2 linked regions of the Homo sapiens genome follow. The protein of the gene in region 1 interacts with the protein of each later gene in a pairwise test. Each region holds a gene or a part of one and is shown in the gene's direction. Other genes may lie near its edges.

Region 1 (4,160 bases):
GGTCTCACCTACTCAAGAAGCTGAGATAGGGTGGATCACTTGAGCCCAGGAGGTCGAGGTGAGCCATGATTGCTCCACTGCACCCCAGCCTAGGCAGCAGAGTGACAGCCTGTCTCAAAAAATAAATACATAAATAAATAAAATTAATTAAAATTATAAGGGAAAATATATTTTACCACTTATTAAGTGGAAATAGTTCATCATAAAGATCTTCATCCTCATCATCTTCACATTGACTGGGTGGAAGAAGAGGAAGTTGTTTTTCTTTTTTTTTTTTTTTTTTTTTTGAGACAGAGTCTCTCCCTGTCGCCCAGGTGCAATGGCGTGATCTCAGCTCATTGCAACCTCTGCCTCCCGGGTTCAAATGATTCTCCTGCCTCGGCCTCCCGAGTAGCTGGGCCTACAGGCGCCCGCCATCATGCCCAGCTAATTTCTGTATTTTTAGTAGACACAGGGTTTCACCATGTTGGCCAGGCTGGTCTCTAACTCCTGACCTCGTGATCTGCCTGCCTCGGCCTTCCAAAGTGTTGGGATTACAGGTGTGAGCCACCGCGCCCGGCCTAAGCATTTTCAAATATGACTGATTTATAGAAAATAAGTGTTTTCGTAGTTTTATTACTGATGAGAAAGAAAATAGAGGTGTTTGTTTTATTAGTCTTTTCACGGTAAATGTATAACTTAAAACATTACGTTTTCATCAAAATAAAAGAAATCTCTAATATTTAGACACTGTGCCCCTGCTTTTCTCCTCATTTGAGTTTTATTCAGTTTTCTCTTTCAGGGTCAAGTTTTATGCAATTTTCTATTTCAGGGTCATGGGACTGGCTTGCTCCAGAGCTGCCATATTCTTTATATTCTTTTTTTTTTTTTTTTTTTGAGACAGACTCTCACTCATTGCCCAGGTTGGCACAATCTCAGTTCACTACAACCTCTGCCTCCTGGGTTCAAGCAATTCTCCCACCTCAGCCTCCCGAGTAGCTGGGACTACTGGCATGAGCCACCATGCCTGGCTAAATTTTTTGTACTTTTATAGAGACAGGGTTTCGCCATGTTGGCCAGGCTGGTCTTGAACTCCTGATCTCAAGTGATCCACCTGCCTCAGCCTCCCAAAGTACTGGGATTATAGGCGTGAGCCACTGCACCCAGCCTGCCCTGCCCTTTTATGGTGGTGGTGATGGTGTTTTTTGTTTTACCCAGATTTACTGGAACTGAGTTATGGGGGTTTGTTTGTTTGTTTGTTTGTTTGTTTGAGATGGCATCTGGCTCTGTCATGTCATCTGCATGCTGGAGTGCAGTAGCACGATCTCAGCTCGCTGCAACCTCCACCTCCTGGGCTCAAACCATCCTCCTACCTCAGCCTCCCAAGTAGCTGGGACTATAGGCATATACCACCACACCTGCCTGGCTAATTTTTGTATTTTTGGTAGAGACGGGTTTTTACCATGTTGCCCAGGCTGGTCTCAAACTCCTGGGCTCAAGTAATCCACCCACCTCAGGGTCCCAAAGTGCTGGGATTATAGGTGTGAGCCACCACTCCTGGTCCATATTTTTTTTTTAAGCCAAAAAAATATTTTCTATTCCTCTTTTCTCTCTCCTCCCTTATAATATCGTCTCTTTTTCTTTCTGTTATTGAGCATACATCACCAATTACTAGTTAAGGATCAAATAGCAATTTCATGTGCCTTTCTGGTGATATCTAAATGACATTCAAAACCTCTTCTTGTGATTTTGAAAACAAAATAAATAAATGCACTTTACAACATTTTTTATTCCATCATACTTTTCAGAAGTTTTCATTTATGTATTGATATGTTCATTTTTACATTGAAGGAAAGACCAAGAAGTGCAGTGGAACAGCTCTGTTTGGCTGAAAGTACTCGACCAAGGATGACTGTGGAAGAGCAAATGGAAAGAATAAGAAGACATCAACAAGCGTGCCTGAGGGAGAAGAAAAAAGGGTTAAATGTTATCGGTGCTTCAGACCAGTCACCCTTACAAAGCCCTTCAAATTTAAGGGATAATCCATTTAGGACTACTCAGGTATATGAATTGCATTTGATTATTATTTTGTGTAAATCTAGTATCACTGAATTTTGGAATCAGAGTTACATGATTGATAGGTCTTAAAAGGTCTGCAGTATGGATACTTATTTTATATTATTTAATTCTCCTAATAATAAGCTAAGACAGCTAAGTAAAATGTAAATAACCCTGAGTTCAAGAGACCAGAGCTAAACTACATGTTGGATGCCCGTGGACTAGTTGTGGACTTAATGTCTTCAACTTTACAGTGATGATACAGCTGCCCAGACTCCTTAGAGACACTAAGAAAATAAAAGGGTTTTCAACAAATGTAAAATGCTATGCAGGTTACCAAGATAGTCCCCAATTCCCCTCTCAATAAAATATGTATTGCTCTGTGTCCTGATTTAACATGACCTAAATTGTAGCAGGAGAGAGCTTCTAAATAAAGTTCCAAGTGTGCTGTCCATCACCTCTCAACTTCAGGCTTATAAAGTGATGCCATTTTGTTTCTTTTTGTTTTTTGCCCCTCTTTATAAATTCAGAGACAGCAGCCTAGCCAACCTGTTCAGTAGCTTCTGTCTGGTCTTTCCCTGTTTGTAGACACTTGTCACCTAGCAATAGTATCTTAAAAGTTTGTCTATAATGGCATAAACTGAATGCATCAGCTGAACATGCTTTCCTGTCCTAATGAATATCCCCTCTTTCCACCGAATCAAGTGCAGGCATTGCTAATGGAGACTAAACAAAGCAACAGTTTGAATTGTGGCACATTCTGCAAATTACAAAATGAATGGTTTTTTTTAAAAGAGTTGAGAAAAATGTGTGGAATAGTGCTATATATATAAATTTTCTTTGTTAGTTTTCATAGGAAAACTTCTTCATGAGTGGAGATCCAGCTTTGTTCTATTTTGAGAATTAACAGGCACTATTTATAAAATATACATGCATGCACAGTATGAGTATAAAAATGCTATATGTCTTTTGAGCAGACTCGAAGGAGGGATGATAAGGAACTGGACACTGCCATTAGAGAAAATGATGTAAAGCCAGACCATGAAACTCCTGCAACAGAAATTGTTCAACTAAAAGAAACCGAACCCCAAAATGTGGACTTCAGCAAAGAGGTAGCGAGATTATTTTATGAAAGGTATTCCAAAGGAATAGATTTGTGAAGATTAAATCAAGTGGTAAGGTTGAAAATAAAGTGTGTTTCTTTCAGTCACAGAGTCCATAGAGCTAAATGAAAAAATAAGCTTTCTGGCCGGGCGCGGTGGCTCACGTCTGTAATCCCAGCACTTTGGGAGGCTGAGGCAGGCGAATCACGAGGTCAGGAGATCGAGACCATCCTGGCTAACACGGTAAAACCCCGTCTCTACTAAAAATGCAAAAAAAAATTAGCCGGGCTTGGTGGCAGGCTCCTGTAGTCCCAGCTACTGGGGAGGCTGAGGCAGGAGAATGGCGTGAATCTGGGAGGCGGAGCTTGCAGTGAGCCGAGATCGCGCCACTACACTCCAGCCTGGGCGACAGAGGGAGGGAGACTCCATCTCAAAAAAAAAAAGAAAAAGGAAAAATTAAGCTTTCTTTAGTTTGATTGATGTATTCAGCCACATCAAGATATGCATTAATTGACTGGGCACGGTGGCTGGTGTGTGTAATCCCAGCACTTTGAGAAGCTGAGGCAGGCGGATCACTTGAGCCCAGAAGTTTGAGACCAGCCTGGGCAACATGGTGAAACCCTGCCAATACTGAATACAAAAATTAGCCAGGTGTGGTGGCATGCACCTGTAGTCCCAACTGCTACTGGGGAAGCTGAGGTGGGAGGATCACCTGAGCCCAAGTCGCAGTGAGTAGAGATGGGCCACAGAGTGAGATCCTGTTTCAAAAAAAAAAACAAAAAAAACGTGGCGGGCACAGTGGCTCATGCCTGTAATCCCAGCACTTTGGAGGCCAAGGCGAGTGGATCACTTGAGGCCCGGAGTTCGAGATCAGCCTCGCAAACATAGTGAAACCCCATATCTACTAAAAAATACAAGAGTTAGCCAGGCACAGTGACACATGCCTGTAATCACTACTTGGGAGGCTGAAGCAGGAGAATCGCTTGAACCCGGGAGTCAGAGGTTGCAATGAGCTGAGAT
Region 2 (3,830 bases), on another chromosome or scaffold:
CGTCGCAGCAAGACTTCGTCTCAAAAAAAAAAAAAGAAAGAAGATAGGCCAGATAACAGCAGGCTCTCAGTATCTGCAGTATCTGCAGTGGGGATTGGTTCCAGGACCTCCCATAGATAGCAAAAGCTATTGTTGCTCATGTCCCTAATATAAAATGGCATAGTATTTGCATATAACCTATGTGTATGCTTTAAATCCCATATACTTTAAATCATCTCCAGATTACTGATAATACCTAATGCAATGTAAATGCTATAAAAATAGTATGCTGTATTGTTTAGAGAATAATGAAAAGAAAAATCTGTACCTTTTCAGTACAGACACAATTTTTTTCCCCCAAATATTTTCAATCCACAATTGGTTGAACCCATGGATACAAAGGGCCAGCTCTCCTTGAAATCAAGTAAAGAAGCCAGAGGACACTGGAGAAAGGTAGGGAGGAGAGCGAGTGTTTTTGTCAGTGCTTCCCAAAAGCCAGTAGCTGCATCAGAATCACCTCAGCAGCTTTAAAAAACAAAACCAACCAACCAGACACTTCTAAAGATCTGATTTGTTGCTGGCTGTGATATTGCATGCCTGTAGCTCCAGCTACTCAGGAAGATCTCTTCAGCCCAGGAGATTGAGTCCAGCCTGGACAACATAGTGAGACCTCATCTCTTAAACAAACAAACAAACAAAATTCTGATTTTATAAAAGAGCGGGGGGGAGTCCTAGAACCTTTTTTTTTTTTTTAAAAAATACTCCTTAATGTTGCTTCTGATATACAACCAAGTTTGGGAACCAGTTTTATTCTCATCACCTGCTCTCTATCTCTGGCTCTAAATAGGAGATAGTAGTTAATTTAGACCTAATGAGTAGCTAACATAATAGGGGGTGTGTCTAGGCAGAGGATGAGATAAGAGCCCGTTGAACCATCCCACAACCTGCTCCAGTATCTTTTTCTCGAAGGTACTAACAACAAGCCCAAGAAGTTTCAGGGAAAGTGTATACCTGTTTCTGCCAGCAGTTTCACATTTATTCTTGACCAAGATACTGGGAAGGCTGTCTCTCTTGAGGCTTTCTTAAGATGCATTTCTTGTAGTGGGATGTATAATTTCAGCACAGATCTGGCAGTGGCAGAGGTCTCTGGGTATGAGATCACTAATCCTCAGCTACAGAACTCAGGCAAGATCCCCAAAAGTCTGTTTAACCATTTTGGTTAACCAGATATCCTAAATTTCTGAGGTCAATGGCAGTCATCTGATTTGATAGAGAAAGAAATTGAAGTGAAAAGGGCATTGTGGTCATCTGAAGTTATAAATGACAGTGACTGAAACTCTGGCCCAGGAAGTGCTGACTTTTAACATTCTCTGAGAATGTCCTAAGATGATAGGATGAATAAAGGGTATCTCACCGTCCAGGAACAGAGGATAGAGGGGTTAGTTATAGGGGACTTCTTACTCCTCCAACCCCTTCCCTGTGGACTGACCACACTTGGTGGTTTAGGTATAAATGCAGCCTCTTAGGTGTTTTCCAGCTGTTTTGTTGCCATGGCAGCGTGTTTGTTATGCCACTGTTTCCTTCTGGCCTCTCACAGCTCAGTTGCTAGTCTCTGTTTCAGGATAGGGTATTAACTATCTGGGCAGCAGCAGCTAGTAGACTTCTTCCTCCATCCAAGAGACTAAGCCATTTAGTTCCCTAGTCTCCCAGCTACTGTAGATGCTTACCTCTGCCTCTGATATTCGATCCTTGGAAGTCTTATTTTTCCAAGAGTTTGGTCTTCTCAACTATTTCCTATAGAAGCAAATTTCCTTTCACCAGGAATGTGAGGTATAGTCAGGTTCTCCTCTTTAGTTTCCCTCCATTCATCTCCTTTGATACAGCTAGAAAGCTCTCAGCTCTTTCCCCAAGAATCATCAAAAGAGGGGAAATCACATAAAGACTGGGCAGATGGTGGGTGCAGATTTAGCTGAAGAGTTCAGATCTTTGAGAAGGAGGTGCATTCATGACAACCAAGGTTAGATGATGTATTGAGATGGGCCTATCCTTTGGGCCTCTTTCAGCATAAGCTTTCAAGCATTGCTTTTAGGGGAGGGGCCACTATGAGTCTTAAGTCATAAACGGGGATAAAGGAAGGAAATAAAGATTGTAAAAGGAGAGGAGGTTAATAGAGGTGTATATAGAGTAGGAACCCCAACAGTTAAGATCCCAGGTACCCACCCCTATGAAATTTACGCATGAGCCCTTGAAGGAAGAGGGTGACCAGTGGGACTTATGAATGGGACTAACTCCTCATGACCACCTGGTATTTCTCCGTGAGGTTTTTTGCTGTTGGAGACTGACTCCTAGGTGGGAGCAGCTGCTATGGTCATTACTCAGCTTCAACCCAAGGACCCAGATGCTTGGTTATTGGTGATCCTGCTTTAACTCTTAGATGAATGATTTGATGTCTGTAAAATTGTACCTTCCTTTTAAACTTAATTTTTATCTTACAGCAGCAGCCAGTAAGGAGGAGAAGGGGAGAGAGCTCATTTGATATTAACAACATTGTCATCCCAATGTCTGTTGCTGCAACAACTCGCGTAGAGAAACTGCAATACAAGGAAATCCTTACGCCCAGGTAGAAGCTCAGAATAGTTGGCTCCTCTCCCCATTCTTCCTGCTATTGCCCTTTTTCCCTCTTCTCTTCTGACCAAGAGTTGGGCCCTAGTCTTTGGTTCTGTCTTCTCATTAAGAGAAATTCTTATCTGATAAGAACGAAATTATTTCTGTATATAGTTCTCTCTCATTCCATTATAGGAATACACCAAACGAACCAGCAGTCACAGCCTGGTAGGCCATTCACTTACTGGTCTAGAGACCGGTTTTGTCAACACATACAGTATGTTTTAAAATACTGAATTTGTTGTCAACATCAAAGCAGGATTTCACATAAAAATCTTTGTTTCCAGCTTTTGTTGCCAAACAGAAGATTAGGCAACCCTGGGTATGCATTTCCATATGGGAGCAATCAGCTGGTCCTGAACAGTGGTGGTCCTCTTTAAACAGGTTTCTTTTCTTGTGTTTGTCACAGTCTCTCAGCCTCAGCCTTACCCTAGGCCGCTTCTCTCATTTCTGGCCTTCTTGGGCATTTGAGTAGGTGGCCAATTTCACAGGCCTTGACAGGGTAGGGAGACTGAGCTGTGATAGGGCAGAGCCTACCCGGCAGAGAGCAGTGTCACCCACAGGTGCAGGATTCTCATCCTTGCATGGACACTTTGACCCTGCCCCCAGTTTTAGCCTGCTTGCCATCTCATGATTGTCTGTTCTTGGTTTTGCAGCTGGCGGGAGGTTGATCTTCAGTCTCTGAAGGGGAGTCCTGATGAGGAGAATGAAGAGGTAATGGCCTGGTTCTTCTGTTAGAAGAACACGTGTGTACACATGCACACATACATATGAGTGCACACACCCTAAATGGCCTGAAGACTTGTGGGTGTGAAGTGCAAGCTCCTTGTATTCCTGTCGTGACCGGGAAGAACCTAGAATGGGGTGGGACTGGTTCTTAACTCCTGGAGAAAAGAGGGGATCGATGAAGCTGCTCTATTGCAGATTGAGGACCTATCCGACGCAGCCTTCGCCGCCCTGCATGCCAAATGTGAGGAGATGGAGAGGGCACGGTGGCTGTGGACCACGAGTGTGCCACCCCAGCGGCGGGGCAGCAGGTGATGGGGCAGGCTTGGGTCCCCAGGGCCTGTGGAGAGAGGGTGGACAGGGAGTTTGGGCCCTACTTGAGTCCATGGAATTGCTACTGCCTCTTGGTTGCTCATCATACTCATCTACTGGCAGTGGCAAATAGCTCAGAATTTCCTTGG

Evidence for each region. The genes of interacting proteins can lie anywhere in the genome.
Region 2: the proteins of PLEKHA5 (region 1) and KANSL1 interact in a two-hybrid assay, tested with the Homo sapiens proteins (one large-scale study listed by BioGRID and IntAct).

What each region holds. Positions count from the first base shown.
Region 1 is NC_000012.12:19,356,398-19,360,557, forward strand, and holds part of PLEKHA5 (pleckstrin homology domain-containing family A member 5), read left to right. Parts: intron 1-1,830; coding exon 1,831-2,040; intron 2,041-3,014; coding exon 3,015-3,149; intron 3,150-4,160.
Region 2 is NC_000017.11:46,032,930-46,036,759, reverse strand, and holds part of KANSL1 (KAT8 regulatory NSL complex subunit 1), read left to right. Parts: intron 1-2,474; coding exon 2,475-2,599; intron 2,600-3,299; coding exon 3,300-3,357; intron 3,358-3,567; coding exon 3,568-3,680; intron 3,681-3,830. UniProt on the Homo sapiens protein: Non-catalytic component of the NSL histone acetyltransferase complex, a multiprotein complex that mediates histone H4 acetylation at 'Lys-5'- and 'Lys-8' (H4K5ac and H4K8ac) at transcription start sites and promotes transcription initiation.